7 linked regions of the Homo sapiens genome follow. The protein of the gene in region 4 interacts with the protein of the main gene of each other region in a biochemical or structural test. Each region holds a gene or a part of one and is shown on either strand. Other genes may lie near its edges. The genes, in order: SEC23B, SETD3, UBE2E2, SRPK1, FAM76B, METTL14 and CDC42EP4.

Region 1 (3,500 bases), on a different chromosome or scaffold from region 4:
TATGCCATTTTGTATGAGGGACTTGAGTATCTATGGAATTTGGTATTGGGAGGAGTGGTCTTGGAACCAATCTCACAGATACCGAGGGCCGACTGTACTAAGGATGAAGCTTTCTTTGCCTTAAGCTCATCTCCTTATCGACATTTCTTTTGCAACCCCTGATCCTGTTCATTCACTTGTTTATTGAGCACCTTCTTGTGCAAGTGAGGGGTTCTAAGGATAAAGACAGTGACATTGCTCTCACCTTCCCAAAGTCCTGAGCGTGCTGAACGCGAGTGTTCTTATGAACTTCTGGACCCTGGTGAGCTCGTGGGCATTTCCCATAGGCCAACAGTCAATCACAGCATTTAGACCTGGAAAACGGTAACTGCTACTTTGAGAAGGAGTGAGCAGGCTACAGAAGGAGGCATCTGATGAGAATCCTCTGCCTGGAGCCATATTAATGGCTCTGTTAAGACACATTGCACACTTGCTGTAGCCTCTTTCTCCATTTTTCCTCTCCATTGTCTTCTTGTTCTCCTAAATAACATGCGAAAGCACTTCACTTTATTTATAAAGGTATATGAATCAGTTAATGAATGTTTCTTGATTTCCTGTGTATACAAGATATTTTCTAGACCAGTTGTGGATGAGTATAAAAGAAGGAAGGGTGATAAAATGTGTAGCGTAGTCAGGGAGACAGATCGTCTGCTTTCCACAGTTTAGCATATGGCTTCTCCTCACTGCCTCATCAACACTCATACTTTGATTCTTACAGCTTTTGTCTCCTTTGCCAAGGGTACCCCAATTCAGGGCCCAGGGGGAGCAGGGGATGGGGGTGAGACAATTGCACGCAAGTCTGTATGACTACTGCTCACCAGAGGAGTGTAATATGTGTGCCGTTAGGAAAGGAGATGGGGGAGTGGAGTCTGTGTGGGCAGCCAACAAATCCCTTTCCTTACCAGATGTGCGGAGATGAGAGGCTAGACTGAGTGATAACAGTGGAAGTGGAAAAGGAGGGAGTCCACCGCTCCTTGGGATGAGTAATCCATGGGCTTTGTTAACTAGTTGATATAGAAGAGAGGAGGCATGAGTGACGCCTGACATTCCTGGGGGAATGCGCAGGCGGGGGCATTTTCCTCCTGCTTCTCCTCCTGCCGGTAGCTCTGCTTTGCTCTCCCTCTGAAGCTTGTCATTTTTGATATTAGACTTCTTCACTAGAAACAAGCTCTGGGTGGCGATGGTAGAATGTCAGTGTCAGTGAAGGCTGTTATTACAGTTTCCACAATAGTTTTGGTTGGTTTGTTTCTGTGTAGACCATAGCCCAGTGGCGTAAAGCTGGCTACCAGGACATGCCCGAGTATGAAAACTTCAAGCACCTTCTGCAGGCACCACTGGATGATGCTCAAGAAATTCTGCAAGCACGCTTCCCGATGCCACGTTACATCAACACGGAGCATGGAGGCAGTCAGGTGAGTGAGCTGAGTTCTAACTCCAGTGGTTTGTTCGTTTTATGATAGATTGTTATTGCTATACATCTAAACAGGATGGTTAATATTTTATGTGATGACATAAATTGACACACAGGTAATCTTCCAAATATGACTTCTTTTTAAATGAGTGGTCAGGCCAAGCGCGGTGGCTCACACCTGTAATCCCAGCACTTTGGGAGGCCGAGGCGGGCGGATCATGAGGTCAGGAGATCGAGACCATCCTGGCTAACATGGTGAAACCCCGTCTCTACTAAAAATACAAAAAATTAGCTGGGCGTGGTGGCGGGCACCTGTAGTCCCAGCTATTCGGGAGGCTGAGGCAGAAGAATGGCGTGAACCCGGGAGGCAGAGCTTGCAGTGAGCTGAGATCGTGCCACTGCACTCCAGCTGGGGCTACAGAGTGAGACTCCGTCTCAAAAAAAAAAAAAAAATGAGTGGTCAAAATGTGCTTATGTAAAGGGATTGCCAAGATAAAATACATATTTTATGTTTTAGGATCCTTAAATGGAGAGCCAGTGGGCTTAAGCTAAAGAAATAGATTACTGTGCAGTAAAACAATTCTAATTAGATTACTGTGCAGTAAAACAATTCTAATTTAACCAAACAAATGTTGTAAAAACTTATCTTTTTTCTGTTACATTAATATTAATGTCACTTTTTAATCTTTAAATCTTTTTGTTGTTGTTGTTGTTAAAGGCTCGATTCCTTTTGTCCAAAGTGAACCCATCTCAGACACACAATAACCTGTATGCTTGGGGACAGGTAAGAAATCTTCAGGTATTTGGGGAGGATGCTAAGCTAGTTTTTTTTTAAACTTGTTTTAAAATTCTACAAATTGGATCTCTTTTGGCCTGGAGACAGAATAACTGCGTAAGTTGGGTATTTTGCTGGGGAGTGGCGGGGAGGGAAACAAGTTGAATAACATTACTGGGCCGGAGGTTGAGGGGGCTCCCTGGGTGTGTCCCCTTCCACAATATACAGCAGAACATACCAGGTTCAGGCCAGGGGACAGAGCACTGTACTGTGGCCTCCATGGTGGTGTCCTCCGTCACACAGCCTCATGGCCCCTAGTCCTCTCCCCACCAAGAATACAGGGCAACTTGTCACCATCGGTTTTGCCGCCTCCTCACTTTCCAGCCTAATTCCTTCCCTTTTCTTCCCCCAACCCCGCCTGATTACTACTTTATCTAACTGCTCCCAGCATTTATGTCTCTCTCAGATGAGTCTTTCCTTTCATTCTGTTTTCTTAAAACATTTTTAAATTAAATTTTTTTGAGATATTGTAAATTTACATATAGTTGTAAGAAATAATACAGAGAGATCACCTGTATCTTTTACCCATTTTCCCTTAGTGTTAACATCTTGCAAAAACTATAATACAGTATCACAACCGGGATATTGAGATTTTTAAGGTCAAGATGTGCAGCATTTCCATCACCACACTTATGCACTTTATTTCTATTATTGTTACATTGTAATATATAATGAAATAATTGTACAACTCACCATAATGTAGAATCAGTGGGAGCCCTGAGCTTGTTTTCCTGCAACTAGATGGTCCCAGCTGGGGGTGACGGGAGACGGTGACAGATCATCAGGCATTAGATTCTCATGAGGAGCATGCAACCTAGATCCCTCACATGCGTTGTTCACAATAGGGTTTGCACTCCTATTAGAATCTAATACTGCTACTGATCTGATGGGAGGTGGAGCTCAGGTGGTAATGCACGTGATGGGGGAGCAGCTGTAAATACAAATGAAGCTTCACTTACTTACCTGCCACTCACCTGGTGTGTGGCCTGGTTCCTAACAGGCCAAGGACTGGTACTATCCGTGGCCTGCAGTTGGGGACCCCTGATTTAAAGTGTATGGGAGGGTATGCATAGGTTATATGCAAATGCTACACCATTTTGTATTAGGGACTTGAGCATTTGTGGATTTGGGGATCCACAGGAGGTCCTAAAACCATTCCCCCACAGATACTGAGGGATGACTGTATATAGAAATACAATTGACTTTGGTATGTTT
Region 2 (3,500 bases), on a different chromosome or scaffold from region 4:
ACTAAGAATAAGGTGGATGTGAGCTAGGTGCTTGCTCAGTGCTCTCTCTTGGGTACGTTAAGTGGGGGATGTTTTTATGATGCCCCAGGGTTTGTCTGCTTTGAGAAGTGTACCTGCCTTGTACTTCTCACATTCATTATCATGGCTGTCATATGTCTGTCTTTTAAAAATAAACCAACCCCAGAACAGCAACAACAAAGTCCAAATCCTCTTTCTTGTGCAGACTAGTAGGTTAAGTTGAAAGAGAGAAGTGTTTCAGTACCATGCCTCTTATGTTACAGAATGCAGCAGTCCGGCGCCTGGCCCAGGAAAAGAGTGGGAAGAGTATGTGCAGATCCGGACTCTGGTTGAGAAAATACGGAAAAAGCAAAAAGGTAAAATTGCTAGAATGATAACTGTATTTTAATAATGTCATGTAGAAACTTGATTAGGTCAAAGGGTTGACGAGTAGTAAAGGTCTCAGCATCATTGGTGTCACTCTGAAAGGTCTTGTACTGGGGCTTGCAGACCGGGAGAGAGAGCAGTTAGCGGGATTTCTCCCCTTTCTGAGATGCTATTACCTGCTTCGGAAAGGGTGAGAATGTTGAGCTTTAGGAGAATAAAATGTTTGTATCTGGGTGCTAAAATGATACAATTTTATTTATTTACATTTTATAAAGTATTATACCGTTATTTCCTTTTGAGTTTCAGGACAGTGCATATAGTGTATATCGTCAATAACAAATAAATGCTGATTGGTTAATGCATTAGCAAGGTTTATAATGAACTCACACACATCTCAGTTAAATAAGAGGTGTGGTCATATTCCTTAAGCTGTGTTTTTACAGGACGTATGCAGTCGCCATTGTAATGATTCTCATCCAGGCTGGCGTGGGGCTAAGTGTGAGTTTGAAAAAGCTCATTCACTATACCTATTGTTTTTGTTCTGTAAAGCACAAAAAGTAAAGATTATTATGCAGGACCACATGGAAGGTAGAAGCAGAAAACATCCTAAGGAGCATGCATTGGAATGTGGGGCCCTTTCTTATTGTCATGAAGGGCCTCAGGAGAGGGTTTGTTTTTTATTTGCTCTCTTTAAGTAGTGGTTTTATTGCTCTTCCATACACATCTCTAAACATGTAGTCTTCAGTTTAGATGGTCTCAGACTCCAAAATGGTGAGTTCATAATGGGTGTTTTCAAACAGGTTCCTTCATAATGGGTTTATTTGCACTAAATAGGAGTCTGTGCTAATCCTTTGTCACCAAGTGGGTAGCGCCTTAGTTTCTCTTCTGCGTAGATACTGTTTACTATACCTGACACTGAGGGTAAAGCATTTGCCAGTTCTCAAGGAGTGAATAGGAAGTTCCGTCTTTGAATATTCCTCATTCTGGTCATTTTCGCCATTTAGCAGGTATCTTCGCATATCCAGCATGCCCTCTTCACATATCAGGTTGACTGTTAATTATGCTGTGGTAAGATGGCCACAGGCGCCTGAGCTATGTGCCACACCCAGCTTCCTCATAGTAAAGTTCCTGTTCCCCTCCTTTTATTCATCCAAACAGAATAGTTTTTTCTATGCATGTCTTTTCATCTTTTTGACTACATAGGACATGCTGAAAAGTTCAGAAATTAATATAACAGATGTCCAAGAATCTGCTACCCCAGCTGAGCACATGTCAAAGTTGTATTCTCATTGTCCTTTCTTTTATTCTCACCCACTGATCAGCTTTCCTTTCCCTTCCTCAGCCCTTGGTTTTGTTTTTGTATTTGTTTTTAAGAAATAAAACATCACAGATACAGCCAAAGCCTCACATTTTCATCCCCTTCCATTCCCTCCCTCCTTGCAGGGTGTTCATCTTCACTGTGAATGTTTTCTACTTCATAAATAACCCCATAAAAATATATGGTTGTAATTGATATTTGAAAAATTTACATAAATGGTGTCATATTACGTGATTTTTTAAAAGCCACTGTGGTACATTTAGTGTTATACTTATGTTGATACACATAGCTCTAGCTCATTTAAATTGCCTTACAGCCTTCTGGCTTACAGCTCTACAGTTTTGTGTTCTTAGAATCAGGGCTGTGGGGCTCATCCTTTCCCATGTCTCCTTGTGCACATACGCGAGCTACTCATTTTTGTTTTAATGGAAATTTTGTTAAAGCAAATGTGAACATGAGAGGTGGCATGTTTGACTTTTAAGGAGAAAACTGCTCTGTAAATCATAGTAGTGGTAATAGAAGCTCTCTGCCCTTTGCCATCGTATTACCTAATAGTACCTAATAGTCAATATTTATATTACCTAGTGTCAGTATATATTTCACTGTAACTGACAGGGAGTTTAGGATTTTAATTCTTCTTCCCTGTCACCAGTTAAGGTATGTACTGTGACCATCTGGTGATTAGTTTTGATTTCAAGATTGGCGTGTTAAGACTATTTCCAGTGTTAGTTATGGCCTGTTTTTATTTTCTGAGAGACGTGTGAATGATATGTGTCCTAAAAGTAGCTCTTGTTTTCTAAAACGTGGATTAATATAGGTCTGTCCGTTACTTTTGATGGAAAAAGAGAAGATTACTTTCCTGATCTAATGAAATGGGCCTCTGAAAATGGGGCTTCTGTCGAGGGTTTTGAAATGGTTAACTTCAAAGAAGAGGGCTTTGGTTTGAGAGCAACAAGAGATATCAAGGTGAGTTTATAAAATGTTGGTCTCAAGGGGTCTATGTGTTTGAACTGTGGTGTGCTGTAGAGGGCGCAGGGTGAAGAGGTAGACGTGTGGTGGGGGAGTTCTAGTTCTGAGCCTGTGGGCAGATAGGCAGCCTGGAAGGGCCTTGGGCTCATGTTCTAAGCAGCTCCTCCCACCTTATCCTCCTGGGGAGCCAAGTTGCTAATCAGTGACTGGGGCAAGTCAGTTCACATTTCTGAGCCTCTGTTAGGAGACCATAGAACATGCCTCACAGGATTTTGAGATTTACCTAAAGATAAGGAGGTGGACTCATGGTTTGGATTTTGTAACTTACTGGAGGTGAGTGGGTGGAGGACTGGCGGTGTGGGTATGCCTACTAGTGTCTGAAATGGATGACTATGAGGCTGAAGGTACTAGGAGCTCACTGAAATGGCAATACCAGTGGCAATAGGGAGAGGAGAGAGAAACAGCCACCTACTAAGGAAGAAGGGCTTTTTCTCCCCTCTTGGTTCTTGGTTCTTCTTTCCACATGAAGGGAGCAGCAGTCACTGGCCATGCCTGGCCTCTTCTCACCCCTCACTCATGTCTCTTCTAAGAGGAGGCACTCCTTCATCTGTTGGCCAAGTTTGGGAGAAGGAACTGGACTTGGCCTTTTTCTCGATGGGAGCTAGTTGCCCGTATGCATTCATTCCACTCTGCTCTCTGCCCTGGAAGCTTTGCAGGGGCAGGCCACATGTGGGGAGGGCGGTGGGGATCCAGCTCTGCCTGTAACTAGGTGGGGGAGTCTGTCTAATTCTGGGATTCAGTAGGTGATATTTTGGGTGACCATCTGTTG
Region 3 (3,500 bases), on a different chromosome or scaffold from region 4:
ATTGATTAGTTTCATTAATGAACTATTATAAATACTTTACGAAATTTTTTAACACAACTTTTAAGTCTCTGTGGGTCATACTTTCCATACTAGTCCATGTGTGCTACATGTGAGCAGCTGAACTCTAGAGGCACCAAAACTCAAACCTCCATAGCTGGTGCTATAAACCTTGCCTAGGCAAGGCTTCCTCTGCCTTTAGCCTGATTCTTGCGCTTAGCTTGCTTGGGCTCTGGCTCCAGGCTACGTCTGATTTTCTGGGCTCTGGTACTCACCCTGGCCCAACCTTATGCCCCCATTTTCACCCATAAAACATGGTGTTTTAATGTTACATTAAAACATATAACAAAGAAAGGAGATAATGAGGAGAAAAAGGAGGAGAAAAAAAACAATGAAATCAGTAAAAAGCTGGGGTGGAGGAATAACCTACAATTTTTTACATTGTTTCATTTTATACACTATCAATCCTGGGAAGCTGTCTGTGACAACAGAATAGACATGCATCCCTAGAATGCATATTTAAGAATAAGTATATGTATCTAGAAATATAATCCATATTGCTAAAAATCAATGAAAACTTCATACTGACCTTAGGGGGTTTAAACGGATAGTCTGGTGAAAAGGTAATGTCAAGAAAGAACACCCCTCCTTCATAGACAGATCCTGGGGGTCCCAATATAGTTGACCTCCATTCATAAATGTTGTCTCCTTTGGGTCCAGCACTGAAATAAGACATACAAATGAAATGTGCTTAGAAATTACATAAAGGCTGGAATTTAACAAAATCTATTTATGATAACCAATTGAGCAATTCCATAAAAACACAAAAAGTTAATCAGTTAACTCTCATGTTAAGATTCATATTGCCAATATTGTCATTATCCTAGAAGTGAAATATGTTGGTATCACTTCATAAAAGAACACCAAGATCCTCTTTTGCCATTCACAACCCTACGCCTATGGAACAAGAGTCCAAGGACTACAGGCCAGAGGTAGAAACACAAATGTTTAATGAAAGCATGAAATTATTTGTGATGTCAGAGACAAAATTTCAAAGTTAGAAGGACCTCTGGGGAATGACTAGTCTGATCCCTTTGCTAACAACTGAGAACACAAAGGAGGTTCAATGTTCATCATCCAAAGTCTCTGCTCAAATATCATATCCCATCTGAATCTTCCTTTCTTTCTCCCCACCCAAAGGACTTCCTGACCCATACATCATGACCAATGAGGTCTGTAGAGGATAAGATGTATCATTTTGTTTTATAACTGTGTTTTGCAACTAATGCTTCTTTCTACCCTCCCTAGAAGGTGCTTGAGGAACAGGTTGTACCTTGTCCTTAGTGCCTCTTAAGTCAGTATGTTGGATGATGATGAATTAATAACAAAGCAAGTGAAGAAGCCACATGGCTACTAGCAGTACACATGTCTCTGAGTTTCAGAGAATTTTGCTGAAAACAATATGGCCCACATGAGTCGAGTGAATTGTATTAGTTCTCTCAGGTGAAAAGAAGGGCAAAATGAGATTAGGATTTAGCTAATCCTAAGAATGGGCTCAAGCCATTCTTGGGTCTCAGCCTCTCAAGTAGCTGGGTTTACAGGCATGCATCACTGGACCACACCTGGCCCCTAGAAAATGTATTTTTAAATGAGTTGCAATAGGTCTTGTAGGGAAGCTATGAATAAAGTCATAAAAGATGTGTAAGATCTTTATGGAGAAAATTATATAAAACTTATTGAAAAGTACTCATAAGAGTTAAATAAATGGAGGGAGATACCAAGTTTATGGGTAGGGAGACCTGATATCAAATGTCAGTTTCTCCAAATTGATTCATCATAATTCCAATTAAAAAGTCCAACTGCTTTTTAAAACCAAAACTCGACAAGTTGATTTTAAAATTTTTTCGGAAGCTCAAAGAAATTCCTCAAACTTTTCCACACATATATGAAAACCTGATTTATGTCAACTGATGGGACTAGGAAAAGTTTTTATATTTGAAAAACAGAGAAACTGGATTTTTACCCTCAGTAAATAAACAAATGCTGTTGCAGATGGATTAAATATTTAAATGCAAAAGTCAAAATATTAGAGTTTGACTGAAGAGAGTGACAAGGCAAGCTGCAAACAGAAAAGATATTTGGATCATATAAAAGTGACCAAATACTAGTGTTGAGAATACACAAGTTCCTAAGAATCAACTAAAAAAAGACTCTATTAAAAAAGACATAGACATTTCCAAAAAAAGGGAAACATAAATGGCCAATAATCATATGAAAAATGCTCAATATCATCAAAATCGGGGAAATGAAACTGAAAATCAAAATTCAGTAATATTATTTTACAAAATGCAAATGCAAAAATCAATGCCTGACAAAACCACATGTTGATGAGGATGTGGAAAAACTAGAACTCCTATGTACTGCTGATGAGTATGAGTAATTCCTTCGGATGAGAATATAGGCTCATCTAGTTAAGTTGAATATACAGTTGACCCCTGAACAACAGGGTCTGCATTGCGTGGGTCAACTTAGATGAACTAAATTTCAAGAAAATACATTAGAAAAATTTGAGATTTGTGACAATTTGAAAAAACTCGCTGACAACGCACTAGCCTAGAAATATTGAAAAATTAAGAAAAAGGAACGTCATGAGTGCACAAAATATACACAGATATTAGTTTTTCTTATTTACTACCAGAAAATATATACCGATCTCTTACAAAGTTAAAATTATACCCACAAACCATACATGATGCCATGAGCATTTTAAAAGAAATGTAAGCAAACACAAACATAGAGTATTAAATCATAACTGCATAAAAGTAACTATAATACATACTGTACTACTGTAATAATTTTGTAGCCACCTCCTGTTGCTATTGCAATGAACTCAGCTATTGCCAATAGCTGCTTAAAATGCCTAAAATGCCACGTGACAAAAATCATCTCTGCATGAGCAGTTCATCTCTCCAGCAAATTGCGTATTGCCATAAAAAGTGCTCTCTCTCAGTTCTCGCATATTTTTCATTGTGTTTGTGCAATACCGTAAACCTTAAATAACACCATGGGATCCATACGAAGGGCCACTAGTGATTCTGGAAGTAGTCCCAAGAAGCAGAGAAAAGTCATGCCATTACAAGAAAAAGTTGAATTACTTGATATACACTGTAGATTGAGGTCTGTAGTTGTGGTTAGCTGCCATTTCACCTTGTAAACAGATGATGTAAACTCAGGGTAACAATAAACACGGTACAATACTGTAAATGCATTTTCTCTTCCTTATGACTTTCTTAATATTTTCTTTTTTCTAGCTTACTTTATTGTAAGAATACAGCATATATACATATAACATGCAAAATATGTATTAATTGAAATGTTTATGTTATGAGTAAGGCTTCTTGTCAAAAGTAGGGTATTATTAGTAGTTAAATTTGGAGAAAGTCAAACATTATACATGAATTTTTGATGGCACAGGGGGCTGGTACCTCTAAACCCTGAGTTGT
Region 4 (3,500 bases):
AGACTACCTACTATGTTTGTTTGGGAGGGTAATTAATTTTTTTCCCCTTTACTTCCCTAGATTCTCCATAAATGGTAGTGTGTGGTACAGAACACATATAGTGGCTAGAATTATATCGGGTGTTACCTTATGCTACCAAACCTGAAAATTTTAATACATATGCAGAGTCCCAAATAAGGGGACAAGGAAAAACCATCTTCCCTAGATGTTTAAATTCTAATTTATTCCATCCTATACCAGTTAGTACTAATAGTCCTTAGGTCAAACATCAGCCCCACCGATGCTGTTCTGCTGCAGTTTGACCTATAAGAGCAGGAACAAGCAAACCCTTACCCCTGACTAGTGTGTGCATAGTTTGTTACGAGTCGTGGTAGGACAGAAGCCTGAGTACCATGTCCTCTACTCTGGCTTTCCACAGCCCTAACTCATGGGATAATACCTGATAATTTTATCTGTCAAGTATATCAATCCTATCATAAGCCAAAATAGGTTGCAAGAATTAAGTGTAAAGTAACAATTTCAAGGGAATTCCTTGGTATAGGAAAAATATTTAAAGGACCAATATTTTACTTGGAAGTTTACTTAAGTTTCTAAGAACTTTAAGAAGCTCTCTTAGAAATTATAGTCTAAGTTTTTCCTTAGTATTCTTATTTTTGTTATTGTTAATGGTAAAAACACATTTGCAGGTCCTGCCAAAAACCAGCAGAAAATTCTTGGCATGCAGGTACTTGTTACCAAACCATAAATTCAGTCAAAACTGCTCAAAGGTTGTAGGGAAGTCATAAATGTGAAGTCCCCTTTAAATGACACCACTAACTCCTTTACATGAGAAAGATAAAACCTGAAACCTTCACAAATTCCCAGATAATATGGACGTCTCTAGCATGTTATTTCCCCTATAAGATACATAACTGGAAGTTTAAACCTTAATGATTCTGTAACTACACGATAAAAGTATTTTCTAAAGCTTTTTTTCTGGCCAGGAGTATTATGCCCGGGTGTGGTGGTTCACGCCTGTAATCCCAGCACTTCAGGAGGCTGAGGTGGGTGGATCGCTTGAGCCCAGGAGTTTGAGACCAGCCTGGGCAACATGGCAAAACCCCATCTCTACAAAAAATACAGGCCAGGCACAGTGGCTCACACCTGTAATCCCAGCATTTTGGGAGGCCAAGGCGGCAGATCACTTGAAGTCAGGAGTTCGAGACCAGCCTGGCCAACATGTGAAACCCTGTCTCTACTACAGATACAAAAATTAGCTGGACCTGGTGGTATGCACCTGTAATCCCAGCTACTCAGGAGGCTGAGACACAAGAATCACTGGAACCCAGGAAGTGGAGGTTGCAGTGAGCCGAGATCATGCCATTGCACTCCAGCCTGGCGACAGAGCAAGACTCCATCTCAAAAAAAAAAAAAAGTTTTATATTCTTAACTTCTGTCACCTGCAGAGAGAAAAAAAAAAGGGGGGGGGCAGTAGATCTACCTGAGGTGTGTGTACTGGTTGGTCCCAGACTCACCTCCTGGTTAAGAGGCTGCATGCCTCCCTGGTTGTGCTCATGGTCCATATTCATACTGTGATGTTTACAGATCATCAAGCAGCTATACTTTAAAATGTTTGTGCTAATCTTTACTTTTAAAAAGTGATTTTAGGAAGAAATTAAAAGCTTTAGACAAGACATAAGATCATTGGTTTTCATCTGAGTTTTAGCTCATATTAGCCCTGAAGTTTCAAGTTAGGCCATTCATGCTTTTTGAAGTTCTATTTTCTCATCTTTAAAATGGGGTATCAGCCAGGTGGTGGCTCAGGCCTGTAATCCCAACACTTCGGGAGGCCAAGGCAGGAGGATTGCTTGAGCCCAGGAGTTTGAGACCAGCTTGGCAGTATGCCAAGACCTCATCTCTACAAAAAATGTTTTAAGTCAGCCAGGTGTGGTGGCACATGCCTGAAATCCCAGCCACTGGGGAGGCTGAGACAGAATGATCACAAATAATAGTTCTAGAATGCCTAACACATATTTGGACAGTTTTTTATCTTACCTAAAGAACCTACCTGAACCTAGATATATAGACAAAATAGAACTAAAGATGAAGATAAGCCTCCAAAATCCAGAATGGGACTTGCCAGACACTATCGGGTGACCAACCACCTGAAATAATTCTTGGCCTTCCCAGTCAGTCTTCCTTCAGTATCCTTGGTTTTATTTGTAGTTACTTTTAAACAGCTAGTCCTTGAAAAAGCTATTCATAGAAAAACCTCTTTTACAGCTTGTCCTTGATCTGTTCTTCTTACCCTTCTATTTTAGACCACATTGTGCACATTATAGAGCTGATAGGCAGAATTCCAAGACGCTTTTCCCTCAGTGGGAAATATTCACAAGACTTCTTCAGTCACAGAGGTAGTATTGTTATGTAGGACCCAGGGATACTTCAGGAAGCAGAGCATTCACACCAAGATTGTTTTTAGTTATCACTGAATCCACAAAAATTTGACTTTGTGAATTCTCCATTAGATGGATAGAGTCTTCCTCTTCCCATTTAGGATAGAAAGTAAGCCTGATAGGCTTTACAAAGAGATGTGCATGCTGCTCCTTCTGCTGTTTTCTAGAGCTGCATTTGTTACTCTTGTTACGGATCTTTTTTTTCCCCCCTCTTGAAATGTTTGAAATATACAGATCACATTGCATTGATCATAGAACTTCTGGGGAAGGTGCCTCGCAAGCTCATTGTGGCAGGAAAATATTCCAAGGAATTTTTCACCAAAAAAGGTAAAGTAAATGTGTTCCCAGACATTAAGGAGGCAGAAGTGTTTAAAAATGAAGAGGTAAGCACATATTCCCAATGTCCTACAGAATGATGGGCCTGCCTTGAATGCTAACCTGTGACTTAGCAAAGAGATAAAAAAGAGGTAAAAAAAGTGGTCAAGAGCAGAGACTGAGCCGGGCGCGGTGGCTCATACCTGTGATCCCAGCACTTTGGGAGACCAAGGTGGGCGAATCACAATATCAGGAGTTTGAGAACAGCCTGGCCAACCCGGTGAAACCCCGTCTCTACTAAAAATACAAAAAATTAGCTGGGAAGAGTGGCGGGCGCCTGTAATCCCAGCTACTCAGGAGGCTGAGACAGGAGAATCACTTGAATCTGGGAGGCGGAGGTTGCAGTGAGCCAAGATCGCACCATTGCCCTCCAGCCTGGGCAACAAGAGTGAAACTCTGTCTCACAAAAAAAAAAAAAAAGCAGAGACTGGAGCCAGGCATGGTGGCTCACGCCTGTAATCCCAACACTTTGGGAGTCCAAGGCAGGAGGATCACTTGAGTCTAGGAGTTCAAGACCAGCCTGGGCAGCACAGGAAAACCCTGTCTCTACAAAAAAAAATTTTTAATTAACTGGGCATGGTGGTACACACCTGTGGTCGCAGCTACTCCGAAAGCTGGGGTGGGAGGATCACTTGAGCCTGGGAGGTCAAGGCTGCAGTGAGCCATGATTGCCACTGCACTCCAGCATGG
Region 5 (2,165 bases), on a different chromosome or scaffold from region 4:
ATAGTTCCCCAAAGATTTAATTTTAAGTTGCTTCTTAAAGAGTAATTTTATTTTTTATGTCATGTGGCTTCATATTAGTATTGTGTGAGTTACATGTTTTGCTTTATATTTTATAAAATTTTTTAAAAATTTTAATGTTTCTGCAATGATCCATGTATCTGCTTTCCCTATGTGTGGTTATCTAAGTTAATATTTATGTACAATGTAATTTGTAAATTTAAAGCAAATCTGAAAAAAATTAAATGATCTTTTTAATCCAATCTGTGATAATCTTTGAATAAATTGGAATCTACTATAAGATTCAGGCATTATAAGTAAATTGTCCTAAAGTCTTTAAAATTGTCTATAAAAGGTTAAGGTAGGGTGGGATAGGTTATATGAAGTTATTGACTATATTCTGATCCAGCGGTTTTCAGCCTGAAATAGAATTTATCTCCTAGTTATTATCAGTTCAGAGTTTTAGTTTGATTTTAAAGTATTGCTAGATACACTGTATAGAGTGAGTTGCTTCTCTTAATAATTTATGGGCAAAGATAAATTTGCTTCATGTAAAACTGTTACTAAATTTATAAGTTTTAAAGGTTTTGTTTTATACAAGCATTGATTGTGAATGTCATATCAAAGATTGGCTTTCTTAAGAACACATGATTGAAACAATTTTTTTTTAACATGACGTGTTTCAATAGACTGTTCTCATAGTTCATTATAAAGTGAATACCAAATAATTCTTTGTCCATTTTGAAAGCATAATATAGGGTAATTTTCAAGTGATACAAAAAGATTCAGTTAGAATCTTGTAAACTAAACCAGTTTATTTTTATGGGATCTTCATGTAATAATTTTCTTAAATTTAGTACTCTCAACCATGATAGATAATGCCTTAACATGGATTTTAACGTTTGCAGGATTTGCTAAATTCATAAGATAGTTATTACCTTTCTTTGAAATTTGTAATGTTTTATATTCTTGTTTCATAGCCATTTGTCAGTCCACAGTGGTCATTATGGTTTTACTTTTTGATAGTTCTTACACCTTGTTGGAGAAACTACAAAAGAAAGTTGTCCTCGTCCTTCCCCTTAGCTAACATCAAAATTAAAAAGTTGAATATTAATATTAGCTAACATTAAAATGGAAGGTAATTCAGTTTTAGTGTTAGCTAACATTAACAGTCTAATAATTTAGCTTTGTAAATTCCAAGGCTAAAACCCTTTCATGGGCTTCACAGTATTTAGTCCTAATTAAATACCCTTCTTTATTCCATGACCTTATTTTATAACTTAAATTTTTTTGCAATTGTATAAATTAGTAATTCAGTCCCAGTCCTGGATCTCTGTAGTGTTTTGACATAATAAACTGATATTCTTTAAATGTGGACCTGTAAGGAGATACTATGGTGTGGTGTATTGTGCTTTTAGCCTGTTTTCCACTATTAATTAGCATTTACCAGTAAGGGTCATTTTGACTCAAGTTATTTATGTATTAATAGCCTGTGAATATTGCAGTCCTTTTTAGATTATATTGGTCTAAATATGCATTCTGCAGTGAACCTGTTAAGCTGTTCACATGTATAGACTATTGAAATACTGTACTTGTACACATCTGACTGTTGACATTTTGTACTTTTTTCTAGATCCAATATTTCACAATAAAAAACTTGTCAAAGGCTTTGTATTAGTTTTCAATGGCTGCTGTAACAAACTCCCACACACTTAGTGTCTTAATACAACAAAAATTAATTCTTTTATGGTTCTGGAGGCCAGAAGTCCAAAATCAGGTTTACTGGTCTAAAGTCAAGGTATTGGCAGGATTGCTTCTTTCTGGAGGCTGTAGGGGAAAATCTGTTTTCTTGCCTTTTCCAGCTTCTAGAGCTGCATTCCTTGCATGCTATGAGCTCATTGACCTTTATCTTCAAAGCCCAAATTGTAGCATCTCAAATCTCTCTCTGCTGCTGTCATCATACCTTCTCAGAGTGTCTCCCTCTGTTCCCTCTCATAAGGACCTTATGAGAACATTATTGGCTCCACCTGCACAAACAACGTAGTTTTTCCATCTCGAGTTCTTAACCTAGTCACATCTGCAAAGTCCCTATTGTCATATAAGGTAATGTATTCACTGGTTCCAAGGGTTCGGGCATGGACATATTGGGGGACCATTATTGAGCCTAC
Region 6 (3,500 bases), on a different chromosome or scaffold from region 4:
GAATTTAGGTCATAGTGATGTTAATGACACCTGGTGCAAAATAAATATTTAGTAACAGGAACAGATATTGATCTTGATTTTGGAGATTTTAAAATAAAATTCTGCTGGGCGCAGTGGCTCATGTCTGTCATCCCAGCACTTTGAGAGACAGAGGCGGGCAGATCACTTGAGGCCAGGAGTTCAAGACCAGCCTGGCCAACATGGTGAAACCCCATCTCTACTAAAAATACAAAAATTAGCACAGCATGGTGGCACGTGCTTGTGGTCCCAGCCACTTGGGAAGCTGAGGCATGAGAATCACTTGAACCTGAGAGGCGGAGGTTGCAGTGAGCCAAGATTACCACACTGAACTCCAGCCTAGGTGAGACTCCATCTCAAAAAATAAAATAAAATAAAATTCTGAGTTTCATTTTGAGGTGTTATCTTACATTACCCAATAAGCATTCCTGAAAAGTGTATGTTTTATACTCTATCTTTTTTTTTTTTTGGTTCAGGGGGAACTCCCAACAGGATTTCCTGTGGTGGAAAGGAAGCTTGTTGGAAGGTTTTATTATTATTATTATTATTATTATTATTATTATTATTATACTTTAAGTTCTGGGATACATGTGCAGAACGTGCAGGTTTGTTACATAGGTATACATGTGCCATGGTGGTTTGCTGCACCCATCAACCCGTAATCTACATTAGGTATTTCTCCTAATGCTGTCCCTCCCCTAGCCCCCAACCTGCCTCTACTATATCTTGATATGTACTTGATCATCATACCAGCAATACTGTACTTATTTGTTTATTTTTCCCTCCTTTACTCTTAAAGTTGATGGGGATAGGGACTGTGTCTTATTCATGTTTTTATTTCCAGCAGCTAACCAGCACTGGCATATGGTAGACTTTCAGTTGTCACTGTGAGCAGTCATTTAGCTGGTATTTGTTTTATGTTAATGTATAACAGCTTCTAGGACATTAAGGTTCACATCTCTGTTTTCTAGATTATATAGAGATGAAAGTACCATTTTACCCAACAAAGAGATACACGTAACAATTTTAAGTTTGAACATTTTTACAGTTGTATTAAAAATAGAAATAAGATTTTATAAGACTCTCATTTGAAGTTAGCGTTTAGAAAATTTTCAATAGTATGTAGCTTTGTCAGAGAATAGAATATTGAGTTGGCAGGAATCAAATTGTGTTTTGGATTGTTTTGTGATTACAGAAGGTCTGAGTGCTTACAATTTAAAACCCCATGTCCATTGATGACAATAGAATGTAGAATTGGGAGATGATGTAATCCTTTCTATGTTTTGATATTTAACTATATATATGACATTGATATCCAAAAGATATATATGCATTCCGTATTATGGCTATGTATTTAAAGACTGGCATTTCTTTTTATATTCTACACTGAAACAAAATTACCTTGAAACCTTGGAATATAGTGTCTGAAACCTCTAGAAAGTTTTTTTTAATGCTGGTTGTTATTGTTAAGTATTGTTTATTTCTTTAAGTTAAGGATTTGTGTTTAAAATTCTTTTGTTTCTAGTGTTTACGAAAATGGGGTTACAGAAGATGTGAAGATATTTGTTGGATTAAAACCAATAAAAACAATCCTGGGAAGACTAAGACTTTAGATCCAAAGGCTGTCTTTCAGAGAACAAAGGTATTGCCTTTACTGATTTGTTTTTTTTAATTTTTGTGATTTTCTCTCAAGCTTTTCCAAATAACTGTATACTGTTTAATTAACTTCAGTGAAAAGGTCCTTTTCTTAGACTTGTAAAGACAGCATTGAGCATTACAGGAATACATCCAAATTAGTTTTAAAATGTTTTATTCATTATCTTAGATCAACCCCACCATGCTAGAAAGGGGAGTATATATTCCTCCATGTCCTAAATGCCATATTTCTAAGTTAGATAAAGGCTTTTGATCACACTCACCCGCAGAATTTTTCTAGGCTCAGAAAGAAGAGATAGCAAGATCGCAAGACTCGAGTTGGCCAGCTTAGAGACGTATTTCTCTCTTCTTTCCTTCTTTTTCCTTTACAAGAACCCCTGAGAACTTCTGTTTGTTGTGACTCTGCCCTGCTAGTATCAGGCTTTAACAGTTTTTGTTCTTACTTTTTAGGGAGCCTCTGGTGGGAGGGTCTTTCTTATTAAGTCTTTTTTGTACTGGAATCATGCCTAGGTAATGAAGCCTCCGTAAAATCCCAAGATGGGTTGGAGAGCTTCTGGGTTGGTGAACCTGTGGAGTTTCTGGGACGGTGGTCTGCTTGGAGAGGGCACAGCAGCTCCATGCCCCATGCCCCATGCCGCATACTTTTCATTATGTGTCTCTTCCATCTGGCTGTTTTTGAGTTGTATCCTTTTATAATAAATAGGTCATAGTAAGTAAAGAGCTTTCCTGAATTCCTCGAGCTGTTCTAGCAAATGATCTAACCTGAGGAAGAGGTCATGGGAACCTCTGATTTATAGCTGGTTGGTCAGAAGCACAGGTGACAATCTGGACTTGTGATTGGTATCTGAAGGTGGGGCATTCATGTGGTTCTCAGCCCTTGACCTGTGGGGTCTGCACTAACTAGGTAGATAGTGTCAGAATTGAATTGAATTATAGTGTTGATGGAGAAGTGGAGAATTGCTTGGTATGGGAAAAACCCACACATCTGGGATCAGAAGTGAAGTATTCTGAAAATACTGAGTGTTGTGAGTGCGTAGAAGAGTTTGTTTTTCTTATTTACATGGCAGTCTTTCCTCATCCAGAGATCCAGGTTTTCCTGTTGTTTTGTTGCCCATAGAACTGTATCTCACCAGAAATGGTGGCTCACTTCTGTAATCCCAGCACTTTGGGAGGCCGAGGTAGGTAGACCACTTGAGCCCAGGAATTTGAGACCAGCCTGAGCAACATGGCGAGACCCTGTCTTTACAAAAAATTTAAAAATCAGCCAGGTGTGGTGGTGTGTTCCTGTGGTCCCAGCTACTTGGGAGGCTGAGGCGGGGGATTGCTTGAGCCCAGGAGGTCAAGGCTGCAGTGAGCTGAGATCGTGCTACTGTACTCCAGCCTGGGTGACAGAGCGAGACCCAGTCTCAAAAAGAAGAGAAATAACTGTATCCCAAAGATTCCGAGAAATGAGGATTGTTTTAGAATTGAGGACATCAGAAATGTGAAAGGTTTTGGAATGACTGTTGATGAAAACAGATTAATTGGTCTGCTCTTGTTATTTAGGAACACTGCCTCATGGGGATCAAAGGAACTGTGAAGCGTAGCACAGACGGGGACTTCATTCATGCTAATGTTGACATTGACTTAATTATCACAGAAGAACCTGAAATTGGCAATATAGAAAAACCTGTAGAAATTTTTCATATAATTGAGCATTTTTGTCTTGGTAGAAGACGCCTTCATCTATTTGGAAGAGATAGTACAATTCGACCAGGTAGGACCTCAGTTAACAACAACTTTTATGATTCTTTGGGTTATGCATGTCAAGAAATAGGACATGGTGC
Region 7 (2,439 bases), on a different chromosome or scaffold from region 4:
ACTGAGGAGCGAGGTGGGGACTAGTCATTGGATCAAGGGGTCTGCACTGGGTAGGGCGTCATGTGGATGGGTTTTGTTTTAGCCAAGAGGTGAAGGATGGACAGGAGGGAGACCAACAGGGAGACCTGTCAGGCTGATGTCAGGGGCCAGGTGGGGTGTGGTGGGCTTGTGTGACGCAGCGGCAGGCATGCGGAGGAAGCACCCAGCATCTGAGTTTTGCAGTGGGAAGAGTGGGTCTGGACTGGGGGTGCCTCTCAGAACTGTGCTGCTGGCTGGACTGGGAGGCAGGCAGGTACCTGGTGTCCAAGCATCACCTCTCACCCACCATACTTTGTTAAATCCCTGCACCCATCTCTCCCCAACCTGCCCAGCTCTGCTGGGCTTAGTATTTGGGGCAAGCCCCTCTAGGGAAGAGAGGGGCTGGTTTGGCCCCAATGCTGAACTTCAACTTGGCCCTTGTCAGGAGCTGTGAGAGTGGTGCCTCCAGGCTCCTGGGCTCTACCTCTGCTGTTTTTTGGATTTCTGGTGAATCACCTAGGAATCAGTCTGCAGATCCTGGGGGGACGAAGTCATTTAGGGTCCAGTCCCTGCCTCCCACTCCCCTAATGATGAAAGAAACTGGAAGTTGCCCAATCTTGATCTCCCCGAGACACCAGAAGGTGGACCCTCAGCAAAGAGCCTGGGGCTCCACAGTGGAGACGTCACAGGCGGGATCCTCATTTATGGGATACCAAGCGAAGGCTGAAAGGCTGGGGAGCTGGTTCTGTGGGTCCCAGCAGCCCCACCCCAGTTCTGATTCAGAAAGAGGACTGTGCCGCCCACGCAGGGGGAGGAGCTGGTCAGCCTCTGTCTCCCTGAGCCCGTCCTGTCCTTTCCCTTCTCTCTCTGAGGACCAGGACTCAGGGTGGGGTGTCCACTAACTCCACAGGGATCGAGGTTAGACAGCAGGAAGAACTTACAGCACATCTCCAGGCTGACTGTTCATAGGAGCCAACTCATAGACTCCATCTCTTCCCTGGCTTGCTGCCTGGAATTGCTGGATTTACCTTCGCGTCCTTAAATGTGGTCATGTTTACTCTGGCAGCATCCTGGCTTGCAGGGGCAGGGGAGGCATTGTCTTCTGCAAGAAAGGTTCTGTCTCTCTCAAGTTTCAGGGAAAGTGTGTCCGAGGCTACTGGAACTCTAACCAGATTTGCAAAATCACTCCTCTACTCTGAATGCCTGCGGATGAAGAAACAGGCAGGGTTATACCATGGATTGCTGGCTTATTTCACAGCATTTAACTTTGGTAGGAGCGCTGGGGTTTAAATGACAGTCCCCTGGCAAAGAGGCTTTTGTGCCGTGTGGCCAGCCCGCGTTAATCCTTTGCCTCTCATTCTCTGCTTGCAGCCTTATGATCTCCTCATTGCGTCCCCCTCTGCCCACTGGACTTGGACTTCAGATCTGACCCCAGACCTGCCGGCTACCTCGGGAGGGCCCACCTCCCCGCCCATCCAGCAAGATGCCAATCCTCAAGCAACTGGTGTCCAGCTCGGTGCACTCCAAGCGCCGTTCCCGAGCGGACCTCACGGCCGAGATGATCAGCGCCCCGCTGGGCGACTTCCGCCACACCATGCACGTTGGCCGGGCCGGAGACGCCTTTGGGGACACCTCCTTCCTCAATAGCAAGGCTGGCGAGCCCGACGGCGAGTCCTTGGACGAACAGCCCTCTTCTTCATCTTCCAAACGCAGTCTCCTGTCCAGGAAGTTCCGGGGCAGCAAGCGGTCACAGTCGGTGACCAGGGGGGAGCGGGAGCAGCGTGACATGCTGGGCTCCCTGCGGGACTCGGCCCTGTTTGTCAAGAATGCCATGTCCCTGCCCCAGCTCAATGAGAAGGAGGCCGCGGAGAAGGGCACCAGTAAGCTGCCCAAGAGCCTGTCATCCAGCCCCGTGAAGAAGGCCAATGACGGGGAGGGCGGCGATGAGGAGGCGGGCACGGAGGAGGCAGTGCCCCGTCGGAATGGGGCCGCGGGTCCACATTCCCCTGACCCCCTCCTCGATGAGCAGGCCTTTGGGGATCTGACAGATCTGCCTGTCGTGCCCAAGGCCACGTACGGGCTGAAGCATGCGGAGTCCATCATGTCCTTCCACATCGACCTGGGGCCCTCCATGCTGGGTGACGTCCTCAGCATCATGGACAAGGAGGAGTGGGACCCCGAGGAGGGGGAGGGTGGTTACCATGGCGATGAGGGCGCCGCTGGCACCATCACCCAGGCTCCCCCGTACGCCGTGGCGGCCCCTCCCCTGGCAAGGCAGGAAGGCAAGGCTGGCCCAGACTTGCCCTCCCTCCCCTCCCATGCTCTGGAGGATGAGGGGTGGGCAGCAGCGGCCCCCAGCCCCGGCTCAGCCCGCAGCATGGGCAGCCACACCACACGGGACAGCAGCTCCCTCTCCAGCTG

The links.
Region 1: of the proteins of SRPK1 (region 4) and SEC23B, one has a biochemical effect on the other in vitro, tested with the Homo sapiens proteins (one large-scale study listed by BioGRID and IntAct).
Region 2: of the proteins of SRPK1 (region 4) and SETD3, one has a biochemical effect on the other in vitro, tested with the Homo sapiens proteins (one large-scale study listed by BioGRID and IntAct).
Region 3: of the proteins of SRPK1 (region 4) and UBE2E2, one has a biochemical effect on the other in vitro, tested with the Homo sapiens proteins (one large-scale study listed by BioGRID and IntAct).
Region 5: of the proteins of SRPK1 (region 4) and FAM76B, one has a biochemical effect on the other in vitro, tested with the Homo sapiens proteins (one large-scale study listed by BioGRID and IntAct).
Region 6: of the proteins of SRPK1 (region 4) and METTL14, one has a biochemical effect on the other in vitro, tested with the Homo sapiens proteins (one large-scale study listed by IntAct).
Region 7: of the proteins of SRPK1 (region 4) and CDC42EP4, one has a biochemical effect on the other in vitro, tested with the Homo sapiens proteins (one large-scale study listed by IntAct).

What each region holds. Positions count from the first base shown.
Region 1 is NC_000020.11:18,552,940-18,556,439, forward strand, and holds part of SEC23B (protein transport protein Sec23B), read left to right. Parts: intron 1-1,295; coding exon 1,296-1,451; intron 1,452-2,168; coding exon 2,169-2,234; intron 2,235-3,500. UniProt on the Homo sapiens protein: Component of the coat protein complex II (COPII) which promotes the formation of transport vesicles from the endoplasmic reticulum (ER).
Region 2 is NC_000014.9:99,460,360-99,463,859, reverse strand, and holds part of SETD3 (actin-histidine N-methyltransferase), read left to right. Parts: intron 1-281; coding exon 282-374; intron 375-2,519; coding exon 2,520-2,668; intron 2,669-3,500. UniProt on the Homo sapiens protein: Protein-histidine N-methyltransferase that specifically mediates 3-methylhistidine (tele-methylhistidine) methylation of actin at 'His-73'. Histidine methylation of actin is required for smooth muscle contraction of the laboring uterus during delivery.
Region 3 is NC_000003.12:23,496,827-23,500,326, reverse strand, and holds part of UBE2E2 (ubiquitin-conjugating enzyme E2 E2), read right to left. Parts: intron 720-3,500; coding exon 587-719; intron 1-586.
Region 4 is NC_000006.12:35,837,599-35,841,098, reverse strand, and holds part of SRPK1 (SRSF protein kinase 1), read left to right. Parts: intron 1-2,669; coding exon 2,670-2,762; intron 2,763-3,500. UniProt on the Homo sapiens protein: Serine/arginine-rich protein-specific kinase which specifically phosphorylates its substrates at serine residues located in regions rich in arginine/serine dipeptides, known as RS domains and is involved in the phosphorylation of SR splicing factors and the regulation of splicing.
Region 5 is NC_000011.10:95,768,453-95,770,617, reverse strand, and holds the end of FAM76B (protein FAM76B), read left to right. Parts: 3' UTR 1-1,665; downstream 1,666-2,165. UniProt on the Homo sapiens protein: Negatively regulates the NF-kappa-B-mediated inflammatory pathway by preventing the translocation of HNRNPA2B1 from the nucleus to the cytoplasm.
Region 6 is NC_000004.12:118,702,392-118,705,891, forward strand, and holds part of METTL14 (N(6)-adenosine-methyltransferase non-catalytic subunit METTL14), read left to right. Parts: intron 1-494; coding exon of another isoform or gene 495-544; intron 545-1,543; coding exon 1,544-1,660; intron 1,661-3,219; coding exon 3,220-3,430; intron 3,431-3,500. UniProt on the Homo sapiens protein: The METTL3-METTL14 heterodimer forms a N6-methyltransferase complex that methylates adenosine residues at the N(6) position of some mRNAs and regulates the circadian clock, differentiation of embryonic stem cells and cortical neurogenesis.
Region 7 is NC_000017.11:73,285,563-73,288,001, reverse strand, and holds part of CDC42EP4 (cdc42 effector protein 4), read left to right. Parts: intron 1-1,389; 5' UTR 1,390-1,501; coding exon 1,502-2,439. UniProt on the Homo sapiens protein: Probably involved in the organization of the actin cytoskeleton. May act downstream of CDC42 to induce actin filament assembly leading to cell shape changes. Induces pseudopodia formation, when overexpressed in fibroblasts.